Linked DNA regions of Homo sapiens. The protein of the gene in region 1 purifies or fractionates together with the protein of each later gene. This does not show direct contact. Each region holds a gene or a part of one and is shown in the gene's direction. Other genes may lie near its edges.

Region 1 (6,913 bases):
TAATTCAAGTCCTCTCCCCATCCTCCCACAACAAGTACATCAGCTTTTTCCTTCAGTATGTCAACTTCTAGATTTTACTCAATCCATCAACAGTCTTCTAAAAATCTGAACAAAAATAAGCTGAACTTTAACAGATAAATTTTATGGTGTGTAAATAATACTTCAAAAAGCTATTGGAAATAAATAAATAAAGCCAGCATCCTGACTCCCAGGAGTCCTCAAAGGACAACTGAACTTTGATGAAGCCAGTAGAGACCAGGTTCTTGAGAAACCCAACTTTATCTCAACCCTCAAAAATCCTCACAGAATGTGAACTCATAGCCAAAAATCAAAAGTACATACAATAGCAAGGTATTATAACAAAGAGCTTCAGAAATAACAAATAGCAAAGTCTGACCTGCAAAGACTTCAGGTATTTGAATAAGATACAAAAATATAAAATAATATATTTAATATTTTTACAGAAATAAAAGAAAAGATTGGGTGTACGAGCAAGAAACAAGACCATAAGAAAGACCAAGCGAATTTGAAAAAAAAAAATAGAACTTGTAAAAATGCATTAATAAGTGGATTAAGAAACACATTAAACATAACTCAAAAAAAGAATTAAAATATATGTAAGTATAGTTTGTCAATGTACAAATAAAAAGTAAGATTTTTCAAGAAAATATTTTTTAAAAGAATTAGTTATTTGGAAGAGATAGATTAGGTAACAGATTAATGCTGCCAAAGAGCGAATTAGAGAACTGGAAGACAGATCTAAATAAATAATCATAAGGATTAATGCAGACATACAAGGAGCTAGAATATATGAACAACACATAAAATGTACTAGAAAGATATAATAAAGAGAATGTGGAAAAGGCACTATTTGAAGAGCTCAAGACTGAGATTTTCCAGAATAATTGGGTGACTACAAAACTTCAATCATGAAATTAAAAGCCCATTACCTAGAAAGAATTCTTACTTGTACACTATATAGTACTTGGCCAAGTTACAATGAAGGCGTTTTCTACTGTTTTTAGAGGCAATCAGGTTATGAAGGAACTATGGCACTTACATAACATTATATTTCTTGGGCTTCAAAAGCAGATAATATTATGAAAAACATTCTGCACAGTTTGCATTTTCCTCACTCACCAAATTCATAGGTTTTTTTCCAAATTACTTCACTGTTTTTAGTAAAAACTGAAACAGACTGGACTCTAGGTTTTAGGTAATGTTGAAATCCCTGGAGATCTTCAGTGTCTGGTACAATATTAGACACAGTAGTGATGGCATAAGAAAGGTTGTTGACTGACAACCAGCATGATCAGGTTAGCAATAATGGGAGATAAGGAAGTTTATTGAAAGTGACATCTGAAAGAAACCAACCTAACAGTGTCTTCCCAGACCTTGAAATAAAATTGGATTTAGCAAATATCATTCTAATACAGATGTCCCCCAACCACCTTACAGGAAAAGCTCAGGTTGTAGTAAGAATAATCTTAGCTAACATTTATGAATCACTTACTATTACCAGGCACTGTGCTAAGTGTAATAAGGAGAAGAAAAAAGGAATGATTTTAAATCCTACTCAACAAACTGTCTTTAGCCCTACATAACTGAAAACAATTTGCTTACATTCTCTAAATGCATCAGTGAATCCTACTGGTATGTTTCTATTATTAGTTGTAATACCAAAAAGTCTCACAGGTAAATAAATAAGTAAATAAATAAAATTATTTTGGCCTGGTGCAGTGGCTCACACCAGTAATCCCAGCACTTTGGGAAGCTGAGGCGGGTAGATCATCTGAGGTCAGGAATTTGAGACCAGCCTGGCCAAAGGTGAAACCCCATCTCTACTAAAAATACAAAAATTAGCCGGGCCTGGTGGTGGGCACCTGTAATCCCAGCTACCCAGGAGGCTGAGGTGGGAGAACCACTTGAACGTGGGAGGTGGAGGTTGCAGTGAGCTGAGATTGCACCACCGCACTCCAGCCTGGGCGACACAGCAAGACTCTGTGTTTACTTTAACAGAGAAGAGTAATCTCTCTCTCTCTCTCTCTCTCTCTCTCTCTCTCTCTCTCTCTCTCTCTCAGTATACATACATACATACATACATACATATATATATATATTTGAGACAATCTCACTCTGTCACCCAGGCAAAAGTGCAGTGGTACCATCATGGCTCACTGCAGCCTCCACTTCCTGGGCTCAAGCAATCCTCCCACCTCAGCCTCCTGAACAGCTGGGACTACAGGCATGTGCCACTATGCCCGACTAATTTTTTTTTTATTGTTTGTAGAGATACATTCTTGCTATGTTGCCCCGGCTGGTCTTGAACTCCCAGGCTCAAGCAATCCTCCTGCCTTAGCCTCCCAAAGTTTTGGGATTACAGGCATAAGCCACTGCGTCCAGCTGATAATTTTTAAAAAAACTTTTAAAAATTGACAAAAAGGTTGGGGTTGTTGAAATCCTTTTTTCTGAACACAGGAAGAAAATATATAAAACAAAATGAGAACAGGCACAGTGGTTCATGCCTGTAATCCCAGCACTTTGGGAGGCCGAGGTGGATGGATTCCCAGGCCGAGGTGGGTACACTCCAGCCTGGGCAACAAGAGCAAAACTTCATCTCAAAATAATAATAATAATAATACCAATGGAGGAATGGGTAAGAAAAATATTTCTTCATTTAACCTGCAGAAAGCTGTGAATCTACCAAATACAGCATAGTCTTGGCCTCAGGGCAGTGAGTTTCAAACTTTAGGGTACACCAGCATCACCAATAAGCTTATTAAAAATATAGATTCTTGAGCCCAACTGGAAGAATTCTGATGTAGCAGGTTTGGAATAAGTCCTAGAATTCTGCCTTTTTTGCAGGCACCACAGGTAATTGGGCAGGTGGTACAGAGTCCTCCTCCCAAAACTCTGTCTTAGGATAGAGACACAAGCCTTCCCCTTTTCTATGAATCCTGAGAATTGTGAACAGTTCTAGTGCAACCACAGAGGTAATCTGATTTACAAGGGTTCAGTTTGGTCTGGATCCTCTGATCTGGAACTATTATAGTTATCATTGTGATTATCAGAGAGACAGATTAGGGGCAGCATTATTTCCAGGCATGATGTAAACTGCTATTTATTATGATGGCAGCTTTAATAATTGATGCAAAAGTATGCATTAAAGAAATTATTTTCATATGTCTATCTACTCCTTCCCTGATTCACAAAGAAATTGGTCTCACCTTTTTATAGTTGTTATGGTAGTGGGCCATTTTATTTTGGTTTTCTACTTCAGATTCAGCTTCGAGAATGAGAAAGCATAGTTTGGGCAAAATAGATGTTTGTAACATTTTTTATTAACCTGAAGAGTGGGTGATCAATATGTTTACCTATTGCATAGCAGCCTGAAGCACCACATTGAGTGGCTAAAACCAGGAAGATGGAGAGAATATGTAAACATCTTTGGTAAAATACAGTTAAATTTACTGTTACTTTGAAGCAACCCTTTGAAGTATCCCTTAGCAACTGGTTCCTTAAGACAGAGATTATTAAGTGACAGATCCTAATTATTACTAAGACATAAGGTTTTATCATTTCTGTTTAATGTACGAACCACCTGCATTTGCTCTCATTCATTGAGTCAAACAGGAGAAGACATGAAATATATTTAACATCTACTTATTAAAATGAAGTCCCCCTGCCCAATGAATTTCATACAACAATGTTCACTCCAAAGAGTGAACTATCTTTCCCTATTTTTCTGCAGAACTTTTTGATGACTTTGCAAACCAGTCAACAATTCAGCACAAAGGCATCCAGAGTCACGCTGGCATGTTGTGACAGAATCGCACAATTACATGGGATCCATCCCACTCTGAAAATGCCCCGAACAGCGAACAGCACAGGTAAATCAAATCAAACGTCAGAGCCAGCACAGCCTGAGAGCGCCTTGAAACTCAGACTCCACAATCTATGGGGAAAGTGTCCTGCTGTGGCATGAAATAAATGAAACAGAAAATGATGGCAAGACTGCTAAGAACATCCTTTGCTTTGCTCTTCCTTGGCCTCTTTGGGGTGCTGGGGGCAGCAACAATTTCATGCAGAAATGAAGAAGGGAAAGCTGTGGACTGGTAGGTAAATGAAATGGAAGGACTGCTGCATGCAAACAGCCTCGGTACAGAGTTGGCCTGGCTCACTGCGAAGTTCCTAAGGGGAATGTCCATTCTCTTTCCTCCCTTTACAAATAAAGGAAGTTAAAGTGTGCAAATCGGCCAAACTCCCAGGCAGGGGTAGGCTTCTGAGTGACGGAGTTTCCCCCTGAAAAAGAGCTGAGCAGCCCCTCTTGGGCCTGATTCACTGTTCTCAGCGGGGCAAGGCTGGTAGCCACAGAAGTGGGATTGAGCTGACAGCTTCTGTGAGCTGGCAATTTCTTTTAATTACATCATGGCTTTTCCTAACAGAACACTTCCAACATCCTTTGAAAGACTGACAGAGTAAAGAAGGCAGATTATTTTTTTCTGAAAATGGAGCATGTGCTGCTCCTTATGAGAAAGAGAAGGGGGACCTGGTCACACACAGCACTGTTTGCCTAACATCGGTTTGTTTGGAAGCAGAGGCAGCTGTTGCCATGATTGGTACGTAGGCCACTGGCCTGTTGTACAGTGTCAAAGACATTAAATGCTGTGTTGCATTATAGTCATGGGTTCTCCTAAAGCTTTAACTACTTTTTCACCCTTTAATTGGGATATTTAGGTTTGCCATAATGGTTGGTGTCAAGCTTTTTGTGTAAACTTCAGGCTACAGAACACAGATATACTCAAGGCAGTAGTCAGTCTTTCCTCAGTTACTGAGCTCAACAGAGGTCTGTGTGGAGTTTTGAAAATATAAATATGAACGAAACATGGTTCCTACCCTCAAGGACCTCACAGTTATGTGGTAAGGGCATAGGTGGAACACTGGGGAACAGAGAGCCCAGAAAACTTCTCTAAGGATGTAATTTTTGAGCTAAGTTTTAAGAACAATTAAGAAGTAGCTGGAAAAAGAAGGGATGTGCAAGAGCATCTCAGGCCAATGAAGGAGCAATGAGGAGGTAGAGAGGCAAGAAGCAACATGGAAATTTGGGAGTTGCAAAGTAGTTTGGTATTGCTGGAACTTCAGGAGAATACAGGAAGATGACCGGAGGTGAGGTTAGAGAGGTGGGGACAGCCAAGGGGTCTGTGTGCTGAGCTACAAGGTTTGAACTTGACATTGAAAGGGAGCTATTGGAGGACTTCACGCAGGGGTGTGAATGGTCAGATTTGCACTTTAGGAAACCCATTGGCAGTACTATGAGGGCTGGATGGATGGGGAGCAGCCTAGAATCACTGAGACCAGGAGCACTTTTGCAGCATTACAGGTGAGAAGAGGTGTAGACCTGAGTTAAAGAAGCGGTCATGGAAATAGAAAGAAGGACATGCTGAGAAGACTTGGTGATGGATGGGCTGCAGCCAGTAGGAGAAAGGGAGATGTTAAGAAATAATTTTAGGTTGGCCAGGCGTGGTGGCTCACGCCTGTAAGCCCAGCACTTTAGGAGGCCTAGGCAGACAGATCACCTGAGGTCAGGAGTTCAAGACCAGCCTGACCAACATGGAGAAACCCCATCTTTACTAAAAATACAAAATTAGCCAGGCATGGTGACGCATGCCTGTAATCCCAGCTACATGGGAGGCTGAGGCAGGAGAATTGCTTGAACCCAGGAGGCGGAGGTTGTGGTGAACCAAGATCGTGCCATTGCACTCCAGCCTGAATAACAAGAATGAGACTCCGTCTCAAAAAAAAACAAAAAACAAAACAAGAAAGAAAAAGAAAGAAATAATTTTAGGCTTCTGCTTCTGAGACTGCATGAATATGTTCCCTAATAGTGTGGGATGAGCAGATTTGGAGCAAAATATTATAAATTTGGTTTCAAAAATACGGAGTTGGGGGTTAATGGGACATCTTTGAGTTTAGGTTTCTCTGGACCTCAGCAGAAAGGTCTGGGCTAGAAACAGACTGAGGACTCTTGAGTACATAATTAGAGACAGTCACCCAGGAAAAATGTTTAAAAGTACTAGCTCTCAACTGGTGTGCCACGGCACACTGATAGTTCACAAACCCTTCACTGGTGGGCCACCAAATTGTGATTGATATGGAAAATCATTTTTGCCACAAGTGAATGGACATATTACTTAGCAATGTCTGTTAGAGAGAATATAAGCAACTTGTTGCCAAGCTGCTAACATTTATTGAGAAAGGTAAGGAAAGAGACCATCAAGTCAGCACCAAAGAATAATTTCATGTTTCCTGCCACATGTGAGGACCTGACCCTGTAAGAAAGCATAAGCAGGGCAGGAAAGAGTTCACTTAAATTAAGTATAAGACCGAAGGGGACCAAGTGAAGAGTGTGCAGCTTTTACGGGTTTGTGACACTGTTGTATGGTAATAGTGTATATATTATAATGTTTGGTGCACTGTGAGTGTTTAGGGGTTAATGGTGGGGTTCATGCTATTAGAAAGTATTTGGCTAGATCAGTGGTTCTCAACCGAGGGTAATTTTGCCCTCAGAGGATTTTTGATAATGTCTGGAGATAATTTTGATTGTCACAACTTGGCAGTGCTACTGGCATCTAATAGGTAGAGGGCAGGGATCTTACAATGCACAGGACAGCTCCCACAACAAAGAATGATCGGCTGAAAATGTGAATAGAGCACACTGAGAAACGCTGAGCTAGGTAATCCAATAATGCCTTAATGCTGTCTTGGCTGAGCTACCTCTCCTCCCTGTGAGATATCCAAGGGAGATATACAAATGGAAAACAACAGTAAAGGAAGGAAAGGGCCTACTTAATTACTTGGTTTTAGCCCTGAATCTTCAAGGCAGAGTATTCGGATAAACTGAGCTGAGGAATGC
Region 2 (7,234 bases), on another chromosome or scaffold:
ACTCCACACACTCGTCAGCGCACTCCACGTCAGCCCACTCCACACACTCCATGCCAGCCCACTCCATGTCAGCCCACTCCACACACTCATCAGCGCACTCCACGTCAGCGCACTCCACACACTCCACGTCAGCACACTCCATGTCAGTGCACTCCCAAGGCACAGGGAGGCAGGAGGAACCAAGAGAGCAGGAGCCAGTTTCATCAAGGACAAAGCAGCCCCGCCAGGGAGTACGGTGGGGAGCGGTTTTGGAAGGAGGCCTGCCGACTGGGGATGAGCCCGGGGTTGAGGTGAGGGAGGAGATGAGGACCTGAGACAGCATTCGTGGAGAGGGCAGCTGCGTGAGTGGCTGGTGTCCATCGAGACAGATGGGTATCTTCACTGAGAGCCCCCAGAGGCCAGCTGCAGGGTGAGCTGTGTCCAGCACTCAGGAGGGGTTTGGTTCAGCCAGGGATCATCTGAATTCAGGGCCCACAGCGTTTGGACCCTGCACCCAGCTCAGAAACCTCCTCTTGGCTGGGGGTTTTGGTACAGCCTCCTTGGGGGCCATCTGGCAACATCAGCACAATGGCCAGTGTAAGCGCCTTTGGCCCAGTGATTCCATGGGCAGGAGCCTCCTGCCAGGTGTCTTCGCACACGTGTGCATGTGTGTTGGGGCCAGGACACTCACTGGATGAGGCTGGAGCCCATGCCCTCCCTGGAGAGGGACGAGGTGGGTGGACGGCGGGTGTTGATACTCAGCAGCACTGTGGATCCCCAAAGTGCGGTTTCCCAACACGTGAGATGCAAGGGCAGATAGTGGAGACAGAGACTCATGCTTGCATGCACAGGCAGGCATCTGGAGGGCTCCCTCTCTGAGGGGTTTGGGGGTGGTGGTTTTTGCTTCCCACCTTATATCCTTTGAGTGCAAAGATAGCTTTTTAACCATGCGCCTGTGTGACTTTCAAATAAATAAAAACCCAAACCTTCCTAATGCTAGTCATGTTTAGACAATCCCATACCACTTGAGGGTGCTGCCAGGAGCGGGTACTGCTAGGAAGGGCTCTTGGATGAGCAACAGGTTCCCCGAGCAAGAAGGTTCCCGTCTGAAGGCAGACGGCCCACAGGGGATGGGCTCTTGTCTGTCATTGACGGCACAGGCTTAGAAATGGCAGGCTTTGTCTCAAGACCGCTGGGCCACCCAGAGGAGTGGCCAAAGCCCTCTGATCCGTTTCCATCCATGACATGAGGAGCTGCCTGCTCCCTGTGAGGGAGAGACAGTTGTCCCCTGACATTCGGTGCTGGGTGACCTCCCTTTTCCTGGCCGAGAGCTGGGCTGGGGTGTGAACCTGGGCAGGCTGGGCAGTGGACGTGGCCCTCCAAGGTTACAGGCAGCTCAACTCCTGGTTTTCTGTGACACCCTCCCAGGTCCTCAGGCCTGGCCAAGATAAAGGCTTTCCCCCCAGAGCTGGCCTGGGGACCTCAGCACCCCCTGCTGGTGCCACACCCCCTGCATTCAATTCACTTTAGGGCCCCCTGTTCCCGCCAACCAGACCTGTCCTGCCCCTGGGCAGCCCCCAGTCTCCTTCCATGTCAGGGTCAGCATGGAGCCTTCTGGAGTTCACAGCAAAAGCCTGGGTGGGTCCGGGCAGTGGCTGTGGGATCCTGCCAGCCTCTTCCCTGGCCAGTGGGGCTAGGCTGGCATGGTGGTGCCTCCTCAGGCCTCACTGTGGGGGCCTCTCCTTCCATCTACATTTGTGAGTAGAACCTACTCAGCCCCAGGAGTCACCCTCCAAAATCTCTCCATAGGCATCACTGTGAGGCCTCCCCAGTGATCTCTGTAGTGAGCTGAAGAGTGTACCCCCAAAACTCATGTCCACCTGGTACCTGCGTGACTTTATTTAGAAATAGGTTCTTTGCAGATATAATCACAAGACGATGAGGTTATCCTGGATTAGGGTGGGCTCTAAATCCAGATGAGTGTCCTTATAAGAAGAGACACAGGCACAGAGGAAAAGGCCATGAGGTGACGGAGGCGAGGAGGAAAGACCAGGAAGGGCTGCGGCCTCCACCGGAGGCTGGAGGAGGCTAGGATCCTCCCCGAGGGCCCTGGAAGGAGCTTCTGTCTCCACTTCAGCCCAGCAATACTGATCTGAGACTTCTGGCCTCCAGAACTGGGAGAGAATAAATTGCCGTTATTTTAAGCCCCCCAGTTCCGGGTACTTTGTTGAGATAGCTCCAGGAAACTGAAACACCTCCAGGGTCCTGCATTGCCGGCACTCAGCCATCTAAGAAGGCCCCTAAGCTCGGAGTGGCCACTTCCCGCAGGGCCAGTGCTGCCTCCTGTGACTGGCTGGGCATTTGTGGGTGAAGGCAGCAGGTAACAGCCAGTGTTGACAGAGCCCTGGCCTGACGCCAAGGGCTGCATACCCAGTTTCTTCCACACACTCATCCTGTGAAAGGGGAGTAATTAACCCACCACGGAGGAGGAAAGTAGGCCTGAGGCTGAAGGCCCTGTAACTGGCTGTGAGGCTCTGAACTCCAGTGGTGACCACTGCACCGTCCTGGCCCAGGGATGGGAGCTGGGTGAGAAGACAGACAGGGGCTCCAAGAGTCCGAGTGTCTACTCTGACCACCCAGACACCCCCTTGCTGCAGTCTTGGCCGCCAAACAGTTCAGTGTCCTGGGAAGCAGGCACTCAGGGCCTGCCCAGGATGCGCAGGCCTTATCACACAGAAGCAGGTGGCAGGGTGCCCCCAGGGACCCCACTGTCCCTACAATCCCCACACATCTTCTCCATGTGGGCCACCATCCTGGAAACGTGCTGTTCATTTTCGGATGTACCCCAAATGCACAGATTTCATCCTGGCCTGAGATGTCTGCCCATGGCCCAAACACATCAAAGTCCCAGGGGATCCAGATTCATCCTCAGGGCACCAGACATCCCCCAGCTCTGTTCCAGGGAAACAAGCCCAGCCCGCTTTCCCCAGCTTTAGGCGAGGCAGGGCTCCAGGGAGACCTGGAGCAACTTGGAGCAGCAGTCCTCTCTGTGGCTGACCGGCCTGCTGGGGGCAGTTTCCACCTCCTCCTGCAGCAGTGTGAGAGGCTGTCTGCTACCCCACTGATGCGGATGTCCAGGCTTGGAGCCGTCTTGGGACTCCATTGCCGTCCCTGCTGTCACTGTTCACCCTGCTTAGCGCATCTGCCCGGGCCCACTTTGTGGAAAACACTCATTTGACGTCAACCTGCCTGACACCCCATTCCAGGTCTTTCTCCTTTAGCAGGACCCAGATCCAGGCCACGTGAAGATGTTACAGCTGCCAGAGCTGGAAAGAAAAATATCAACCTGGAAGCCTCTGTAGGGAGTTAGCCACAAGGGTGGCAGGATTGGATACTGGCTGCAGGGAGCGAAATTCAACACCTTGACCAGAAGGGCGTCCAGGTTGGGGATGCTGAGGGGTTAGGAACTGAGAACTGGGCTCTCTTTGCACAGTTGCTGCTAAGAAGGGGCTGTCCATCCTCGAACAAAGATGACAAGTCCCCTGGCCCGGCCTAGGCTGGGGCACAGAGCACTGCTTTTCCTCCTGGTGATGAAATCGGGGTCAAGAATCTAACATGAGAACTTGGTTATAAGCCGGCGAGCCTCTCGCAGGTCCAGGGGTGCATCCACACAACAGCTGACCTCCGGGACCGGGCCCAGGGCTCCGCTGCGGCTGAAGGCCAGGGCCGCAAAGCGAACAAAGCCCGCAGGTCCCGCGGCAAGGGCCGAGGCGCGCGACCTGGAACACGCGGGGGCTCGGAGCTCTGGGCGGGCAGGTGTTTGCGCGCGGGGGAAGGGCAGACCGACCCCGGACAGACCCGTAGCCCAGCTGTCGGACCAGAACAGCGTTTAGTCTTCGGACCTTGGGGAAAACTACAGAGGCCTCAGTGCCGGTAGCGCGTCGGGGGTGCGGCTGTGGCCGGGGTGTGTGTGGGCGGCTGTACACCTGGCAGCAGCCCGCCAGCCCCTTCCCGCCAGGCCCCGCGGCGCCTCCGGACACGCCCCACGTGACTTCCCCGGCTCAGGGCTTCCCCGCCCAGCCGGCTGCGGTCCCCGCCCCGCCGCACGAGACTGGGACCTGAGAGCGAAATCCATCCCGTAAGACGGGAGCGCGCAGGCGCGAAGTGTGGCGGCCCGGCGCGGCGCTCCCGGCCTGCCCCGCGTGCACGCTGACGCCGCGCAGTCTCGTCCCCTGCCGCCGCCGTCGCCGCTGCTGTCGCCGCCGCCGCCGCCATTGGAGTCGACGCCTCCTCAGTGCGTCCGCGTCCCGGGCTCACCGCCGCTGCCGCCTCGCCAGGGGCCCGCGCGCCCAGCAGCCGCCGCCGCCGCCCGGCCGGCGCCCGGGGAATTGGCGGCGGGGCCCGGGGCCGCGCGAGCTAGGGTGACAGGCCCGGCCTCTAGGGGAGGCCCGAGCCGGCGGGCGCCCCGGCCCCGCGTCTAGTTGTTCATGAAGCATGTCGGCCACCAGCGTGGACACCCAGGTAGCGGGGCCGGGTTACAGGGGCCGCGGCCGGGGCCGAGGCGCGGGGTCTGGGTTGAGGTCCTGGGGCTGGAACGCAGAGCCCGGGGTCGCGGAGGCCGGGCCCAGGCGGGACCGGGGTCTCGGGGCCGGGGTCGCACGTGACCGCGCGTCGGGGCCGGCGGAGCTCGCGGCCCGTTGGAGACCAGTTCTCTGGTGAATAACTTTGTGTTTCCCTCTTCCCCCGGGTTGTGTGTACCCCACGTCCCGGCCTGCGGCGGTGCAGAGAACAAAAGGACAAGATAATAAAGGTGAGCGGAGTCCCGGGACGGCCGGCGCGGGCTGGAGTGGAGGAGGACGGGGAAGGAACGGTCCAGGAAGCTGCGTCTGGAACCGGAAACTTTCTCTCTTCCGCCAGCTTCAGGGAGATAAAACTTGAGGTTGTGCGACGATTCTGGGAGATTTGACAGGTCGAAGACAGGGGCTTCTCAAGAAGTGAATAAATGATTGCTCAGAGTAGTTTGGGCCCGTCTCTCCCCACCGCATGATCATGGATTTGCTTTGGGGAAGGGGAGGTAGGAGAGCCGGGTGGACATGGCCGCAGGGGTTGAGCGACTTGCCTTTTTCCGCCCAGCAGGGGCTGCTCTAGGAGAGGGGCAGTCCAAGGTTCTGCAGGCTAAGCTCCACATCCCCGGTAGTTGCAGCCCGTTTTCCAAGTCTGTTAGCATCTCCTGTGACATTATGGCTTGGGATAAACCCTCAGAGCGCACTCATGTGAAAACTGTTAAGTGACACTTCACGTTTACTTGGAACACTTTTTTAGCCAGTTTGTGTGTCAGCTCAGGTGTAACCAAATACGGTTCATCGTGTTTTAAGATTGGAAAAGGCCCAGCACTTTATTTACCTTTGCTTGCTTTTTCTGGCTGAGCATAATAACAGTGGGAAGGTAAGTGGTGTAAAAGGAAAACCAGTCTTGGGGCACCCAAATCACTGAGCCAAAGGGAGAAAGCTACGCTGAGAACTGCTGAGGGCAAACCTGCCTCCCATTCTATTCCTGAAAAAGATAGCTTCTAAGACAAAAAAAGTTACATACTTCCCCCACAGTTTGCCCACAAGGAAATTCCTGGTGGACAAAGGACAGAACTCAGAGTCATTCCTGCTCACTGAGATAAATGCTTATCTGATTGCTTCCTTTGGAAAGGCTAATCAGAAACTCGAAAGAATGCAGCCGTTTGTCTCTTATCTACCTATGACCTGGAAGCCCCCTCCCTGCTTCAAGTTGTCCCGCCTCTCCGGACCAAACCAATGTACATCTTACATTGATGGTTCTCATGTCTCCCTAAAATGTATAAAACTAAGCTGTCCCCCGACTACCTTGGGCACATGTTGTCAAGACCTCCTGAGGTTGTATCATGGGTGTGTCCTTAACCTTGGCAAAATAAATTTTCTAAATTAACTGAGACCTGTCTCAGATATTTGGGGTTCACTGTGGAGAGTCAGATAATAGCTCCCAACAGTCCTTCAGTTGCAGCCCCTTCCCTCCTAAGTTTTCTTCCCTCCGTTCTCCATACGTTTGGGCATACATTCTGCATTTGGGCTTTTGGAGGCTCCACTTCTTTTTGCCACACATAAGTCTTCTTAGACCATGTCAGTTTTCACCCTGGTTATGTGTTCCTTGCATTATGTGTTAACACTTGATTTGGTTAATCTCACCAAATTACGATTAAGCCTTTATTTAAAATTTATCCTAAATTATTGAAAGTTTCCCGTCCCCCTTCTAATTAGTTGTATAAACATCAGTTCTATACTGGTTGTACTCCTTTTAAAATTAAAGCATAATTTCTGCTAGAAATAGATGGAAATAGACTTTGCTAACTTTGCCTTCCAAGCTTAAAAGTAATCTTTTAAAATTTGAGGGTAATATTTTGCAACTTTTTGTTCTAGTACAAAATGGTTCGTTACATCAGAAGGATACAGTTCATGACAATGACTTTGAGCCCTACCTTACTGGACAGTCAAATCAGGTGAGTTTATTTTGTTAGCATATATTTGTTTTTAAGTTGGTTTTAATTGTTTTGTACCTTTACTGTCATTTCTGATTTTTAAATTATCCTAAACAACAAAGCAGCAGACTATAAAGTATTAGGAATGATAGACTGCTCATGAAGATGTGACTCCTGTTAACCTTGGGCATCAGTGGGGTGAAAATGATTTTCCCTGTGGAGGAGGCGGCATCCCACTGGGGCTGGGATGCAAACAGGTCTAGTTGGCTCTAGTGTTTGTGGGTCAGTGGTGTGTCTTGCCTTTGACGCAGTGGAGGTGTGTGTGTGTTTCTGAAGCTTCCTGGTTATTCTTAGCTCTGGATGATTGGAATTGTGGTCTGGGGAGGCAGCTAAGAGCTGGGCTGTGGAGCGACTGTGGAGCCAGAGGCCGCCTGGGTTTCAGTCCTTTTTTTGAGACAGCGTCTCACTCTTGCCACCCAGGCTGGAGCGCAATGGCGTGATCTCAGCCTGCTGCAGCCTCTGCCTCCCGGGTTCAAGCATTCCTCCTGCCTCAGCCTCGGGAGTAGCTGGAATTGCAGGCACCCACTACCACGTCTAGCTAATTTTTGTATTTTTAGTAGAGACGGGGTTTCACCATGTTGGCCAGGCTGGTCTCAAACTCCTGACCTCAGGTGATCCACCCGCCTCGGCCTCCCAGAGTGCTGGGATTATAGGCGTGAGGCACCGCGCCCAGCCTGGTTTCAATTTTAACTC
Region 3 (6,213 bases), about 88 Mb from region 1:
GAATTTTGTATTGTATATATTATTTCTACATAATTTTGTTAGATAATTATTTAGAAATTTTGCATCTATATGAATAAGATTGGCATGTAATATTTTCTCATGTTGGATTTTGGTATGTAAGGTTTATAAAAATTAGATGGGCAGGGGTATCCCTTTTAATTTTTTTTTTTTTTCCCCTTCCATGCTTTCATTAAGATTTTTTATTGGGGAGGAAGTAAATATTCCCTTTTACTGCCATTATGTTGGAAGTTGTGTACTGGTTCTGTTCTTTTACTAGTTACCCTAGAAGTCAGAAGTATTAATGTTTGCCAAAGTCTCAAGTTCATCAATACTTGTATCTTCTCCTTAACAATACATAGATCTTAAAACTCTTATTTGTCCCAAGCCTTATTTATGTTACTGTTCTTGTATATTTTAATTCTATTCTTTCTGCTTAATTTTAACTCAACAAGGTATTTCTTTTTACACTTAATGTTCATTTAAATTTACCCCACGTTTACTAATGTTTTTATTCTTCAGAGCTTTCATTTGTCATTAGTTAAAACTGAAATATTCTCCTCTTCTTTTTCTTTATCATTTTGAGATTCGTGAGGCTCTTTGGAGCTCTGGATTTGTAGGTTTCTTTTACTTGTTATTGAGAAATTCTCAACCATTATTTTTTCCTCCCAGATATTCCCTGTGCCCCAGTCTCTTTTAGATTCTCATATTTAATTAAACATATTACTTCTCCGTATATCTTCCCTGTCTTGTAAACATTCCACCTTTTTGACTTTTTATGCTGTATTTTGGATGATATCTTCTGATGTGTTTCCAGGCCAGCAGTCTTACTGTTGCAAATTTATTCATTGGGTTTTCAATTTCAGTTATTTTTTCCATTTCCAGGAGTTCTTTTTGTATTTTTTAAAAATCCAGGTCTGTATTTTCCTTGTTATATGTTTCCTGCAGATATTTTCAAGCTTATTTTCTAGACATATTAAGCATAATTATCTTTATAGTTTGTGTTTGATAAATCTAATATCTTAAATTTTTGTGAGTCTGTTCATTGTCTTTGTAAGCTCTTACTCAGGGTATGTTGTGTCTTTGTGTGCTACTTTTTCTCTTTGAAAAGTTATTTGTAGGGATAATTTGAGGCCTAGAATATAGGTTCTTATTTGAGAGGGAATTTGTGTGTGTGTTACATTCATGTAATACCTTACATTCATGACTTGTGGTTTGTTGGGCCACCAGGTGATGATAATTTGGACTGCAAGTTCATGCATGGCTTCATTCTTTACCTGAGAATATAGTCCTTTGGAGTCTCAGTTTACTGTACACAGGGAGATGGTATCTTATTACACTAAACTTTGGGTGGGCCCTAGGACCTGATTTCTGATCCATTCCCTTATGATACCATCAGAACCAAAGTTCATATATTCTTGTGTTGGCAAATGTTTTCAGGGCAAAAATGACTTTTGTCTTCTACTTGACTGTCCGGGTTCCCACTTTTCTTTCAGTTTTAGCCTAGGGATTACTTTCTTGGCAGCTTTTCAATGCTTTTAGTGATTTTTTTTAAAAAAAACAAACTATCATTACTTAGTTGCTTTCATTGTAGAGGTTGATCTGAATAACATAACTGTTTCTAGAAATAGACATCATTATTAAAGAAAGTAAATTAAGATTAGTAATCTGGTAGAAATGACTGTTTAGAGGGATGTTTTGATATTTTCATATATTTGATGACTTTCTCAATAAATCTCTGAAATATAATGTAAAAAATTATAATTGGTTGAATTGTATTAATAAATTTCCCAAATGTGTAGAGCTTCTGTAGTGAATTTACTATGTGTAAGCTTTTGTCTCTGTCAGACCTTAAATTGTTTATTTTTAGTGGATTGAATAGGACTAAAGTCTCATAGCCTTTTAAAAATGTGTGTCTATTTTGTCAGTGTGGGGGTGGGGTTGGGATATATCTTGAAGCTGCTTAGAGTAATGAAACCTTAGAAACTTTGGGCTAAAACTAATAAATCTAATTTACTCACTATGCCAGAAGTGTTCATTCATTATTGCTTAGTGATATATATTGCATGTTCAAGCTGTTTTTAGATTGGGATTTCATAGTTTTGATCATAGTAATAAACAGAGAAAAATATCTTGGATCTCTTTTTGTGTTTATTTCTCTAACTGGCTTCCAAACACGGTCACGACTACTTGTTGCACATTGTTAATCTACCTTTGTGACACAGTTTAGAGGCTAGTCTTTTAGGGAAGTATTCAAATGATCTGTAGGTTTGGTGTGAGCTTACCCAGGAATGTTTCTTTTCTTATCAGGTAAAAGAGTGAGGCTGGGCCCAAAGAAAGATCGTTATTGTATTGGTTGATAACCAGCTACTAGTTAACAACTTAAGGAAGTATAGTTATTTGAAGACGACCAGTCAAGCATAGGAATCATATCATCTTCCACCTTGCCTCTTTTTGCTTACTAATTTAAAATGCATAAATATATAGTTAACCTGATACAAATTCATTGGTTCTATTACTAGAGGATAATAAGGAATGAATGATTTGTCTTATTTTAGTGTTTAATTATAGCAAATCCACCAAATCCACTTTACATTTTACATCTGCTTTTTTTTTTTTTTACTTACAGTAGACCCAAATGATTTGTACATTGTAGAACCCCTCAAGTTTTCTCCAGAAAAGAAGGTAATTGTTTATTTCTTTTTAAGTTTATTGCTATGTTTTGTGATAATAAATGAAGAAAAGAGGTTGAAAGGTTTAAGGTAATTACCTTTAAGTAGTCCTTAACTGAATGTTTATTTTCTATCATGATAATGTTGTAAATAAATATTAACAGGGGTCAGCAAGCTGTGACCCACAGGCCATATGGGCCATGAGCCAGATAGGTTTTCTCATTTTTAAAGAGTGATAAAACAGAACAGCATGCAAGAGAGAAAATGTGTGACCTGCAAAGCCTAAAATATTTACTGTCTGACCCTTCACAAAAAAAATTTGTTGATCCTTGGATGATTGTCATTATTTATTACCGAATGCATGCCAAGCACAGAGCATGCACCGTTCCTCTAATCCTCACCACAACCTGAAGATGATGTTATCCTCATTTTTTTTTTTAATAAAAAAACAGCAACTCAGAATGTACTTAGGATTTTTTGGCTTCAAAGTCTTTGCTTTTTCATTTTGCCTTTCAAATTAAGTTATACTAATTTTAGTTGTAATTTCATCTAGGTGAAAGAACTTGGGCTTTGTAGGCAAATAGCCTAAGATTCATTCTCAACCCGGCTGCTTACTACATTGTAACTTGGGCAAAGAACCAAACATCTGAACCTTGCTTTTCTCATTTAAGAATCAAGGATAAAATACCGACCTTTCAGGGTTAATAGCTGCCATAATACATGAAAGCAACCTGTATGCTCTCTGGCAGTTAGTAGGTATTCAGATATTAGTATCACTCCCTAAACCTATATTCATAGGTAGCAGGTAAGCAATTTAAAGAGTTTTGATTCAGTAGTATTTACAAAATGGGAAGATGATGCTAGTATCTATATAGAACATAACAATGTATGTGTTCTGTGCTGTTTATAATACTGTTTTACTTTTCACCAGGAGGTGGCACTTCTCTATTAGCTCAGCTCTCTAGGTGTTTGATAAGGTTACTATGGGAAGTATCATTACTAACTTTTCTTTTACTTGTGTTGTAGAAGAAGCGCTGCAAGTACAAAATTGAAAAAATTGAGACCATAAAGCCTGAAGAACCATTGCACCCCATAGCCAATGGCGACATAAAAGGAAGAAAGCCCTTTACGAACCAGAGAGATTTTTCTAATATGGGAGAAGTTTATCACTCTTCTTATAAAGGTCCTCCATCTGAAGGAAGCTCAGAAACTTCATCACAGTCAGAAGAGTCCTATTTTTGTGGCATTTCAGCTTGCACAAGTCTGTGCAATGGACAGTCTCAAAAGACAAAAACTGAGAAGAGGGCTTTAAAACGAAGACGATCTAAAGTCCAAGACCAAGGAAAATTGATAAAAACTCTAATACAGACTAAGTCGGGATCATTGCCGAGCCTGCATGACATAATCAAAGGAAACAAAGAGATCACCGTGGGAACATTTGGTGTTACAGCAGTCTCGGGACATATCTAAAATTAATTGAACTTTTCATACAGAAGACTTTTTTGTTGTTGTTCTTTGAAGAACAGTCTGTAGTATTTGAAGGGTTTGGGGGAGGGAGAAAATATTAATGGGAAAGGCATTCAGAAATTATGGTTTCTACCTTTTTAAAAAGTAGATGGGATTGTGTCAATCTTGGTTAATGAGCTACAGTTTTACAAAGCTGATCACTTCCTATAAGGACAATGGTAGACATTTTATAAAGATGTTTTTTCACAAGATTAATTACTGGGACAAAAGTAATTTGGAAGCCCAGTTCCTTAGGTGGGATAGGAATGAAAGCCTAAACCTCTTCCTTTAGCTTTGTTCCTATTTCTTGCACCTTCCCATATTTATGTGCCTTTTGTCTATTTATAATGCCACTGGAAGAGGAGGGATAACTTTTTCTGTTATTTGATTTCTTTTATAACTTTGTTAGGTTTTTGAAGCTGCAAACACTACAATGCTTTGAGGGGGTCTGTGCCTGAAGCTCAGGAGTGTGGATCAGACAGTCTAAAGATCCTAAAAACTTGCCAACTGGATCTTTGTTTAGCAAACTCACTGGAAATGAACACTTAATGGAATTTTTAAGTCTGTTCTGTTAGGTAGATGGTGATGCTCTTGTTATTTTCACTTATTCAGACTGGATTACTTCTTACTTAGTTACTAACTCAATGAGGAAAAATCCCTACAGGATCTTTTTTTGCAAACAACTGATATATGCAGACAAATTTTTGACAAATTCACCTTTTAAACACACTTAACCATTTGTGAAGGTTTTCTTTAGCTTACATTTTAAACATACACAATAAACACTAATCCTCCAAACTTTCACTGTTTTTATTAGTATGAATATAAAATTTGAAGGTTTGGCCAATTAGTACAAGTCTCATGATATAATCACTGCCTGCATACATATGCACAGATCCAGTTAGTGAGTTTGTCAAGCTTAATCTAATTGGTTAAGTCTAAAGAGATTATTATTCCTTGATGTTTGCTTTGTATTGGCTACAAATGTGCAGAGGTAATACATATGTGATGTCGATGTCTCTGTCTTTTTTTTTGTCTTTAAAAAATAATTGGCAGCAACTGTATTTGAATAAAATGATTTCTTAGTATGATTGTACAGTAATGAATGAAAGTGGAACATGTTTCTTTTTGAAAGGGAGAGAATTGACCATTTATTGTTGTGATGTTTAAGTTATAACTTATTGAGCACTTTTAGTAGTGATAACTGTTTTTAAACTTGCCTAATACCTTTCTTGGGTATTGTTTGTAATGTGACTTATTTAACGCCTTTTTTGTTTGTTTAAGTTGCTGCTTTAGGTTAACAGCGTGTTTTAGAAGATTTAAATTTCTTTCCTGTCTGCACAATTAGCTATTCAGAGCAAGAGGGCCTGATTTTATAGAAGCCCCTTGAAAAGAGGTCCAGATGAGAGCAGAGATACAGTGAGAAATTATGTGATCTGTGTGTTGTGGGAAGAGAATTTTCAATATGTAACTACGGAGCTGTAGTGCCATTAGAAACTGTGAATTTCCAAATAAATCTGAACACTTGTCTTTATTAATTACTGGCTCTTCTGTCTTTTAAAAGAGAACTCAGAAATTATTAATCTTTGAACAGAGATTTAAGTTTTTGCCACTTTTAAAGTTAAATATAGCAGCATTCCATTCAATATTGATCACATTTCAGCCAACTACAAAATGATGGTACTTTTACATAAACATTTTGCTCCCTATGCTATCAGAATTTCAGTTTTTCATATCTAAATACAGCATAACATTTTGTAACATGAGGTTTATTTTTTCCTCTCTCACATAACTACATGAGAAAAAAAACTTAAGTGAAAATAATAGATTTATGCCTATTAAGAAGCAAAAACTATATAGATATTTATCCAATGGGATTTTTAGTGTTCCCTGATGATCAACCTCATTTTATTTCTTCTAATGTTAAGTAAAGCATTAAAACAGTATGAAATAAAAGGAAACTAGGGAATTGGTAAGAACAAGGATGCAAAGTAAAACAATTCTTTTAATTGAATTTTTAAAAACATTAAAGTTGTGG

Evidence for each region. The genes of interacting proteins can lie anywhere in the genome.
Region 2: the proteins of DNASE2B (region 1) and YTHDF1 purify together in Homo sapiens (affinity purification with mass spectrometry; 3 studies listed by BioGRID and IntAct, with this or other methods). This does not show direct contact.
Region 3: the proteins of DNASE2B (region 1) and SUCO purify together in Homo sapiens (affinity purification with mass spectrometry; 3 studies listed by BioGRID and IntAct, with this or other methods). This does not show direct contact.

What each region holds. Positions count from the first base shown.
Region 1 is NC_000001.11:84,394,575-84,401,487, forward strand, and holds the start of DNASE2B (deoxyribonuclease-2-beta isoform 1 precursor), read left to right. Parts: upstream 1-3,909; 5' UTR 3,910-3,990; coding exon 3,991-4,115; intron 4,116-6,913. UniProt on the Homo sapiens protein: Hydrolyzes DNA under acidic conditions. Does not require divalent cations for activity. Participates in the degradation of nuclear DNA during lens cell differentiation.
Region 2 is NC_000020.11:63,213,132-63,220,365, reverse strand, and holds the start of YTHDF1 (YTH domain-containing family protein 1), read left to right. Parts: upstream 1-4,234; 5' UTR 4,235-4,473; coding exon 4,474-4,500; intron 4,501-4,764; coding exon 4,765-4,789; intron 4,790-4,806; exon of another isoform or gene 4,807-4,918; intron 4,919-6,422; coding exon 6,423-6,502; intron 6,503-7,234.
Region 3 is NC_000001.11:172,606,121-172,612,333, forward strand, and holds the end of SUCO (SUN domain-containing ossification factor isoform 1 precursor), read left to right. Parts: intron 1-2,626; coding exon 2,627-2,682; intron 2,683-3,695; coding exon 3,696-4,139; 3' UTR 4,140-5,713; downstream 5,714-6,213. UniProt on the Homo sapiens protein: Required for bone modeling during late embryogenesis. Regulates type I collagen synthesis in osteoblasts during their postnatal maturation.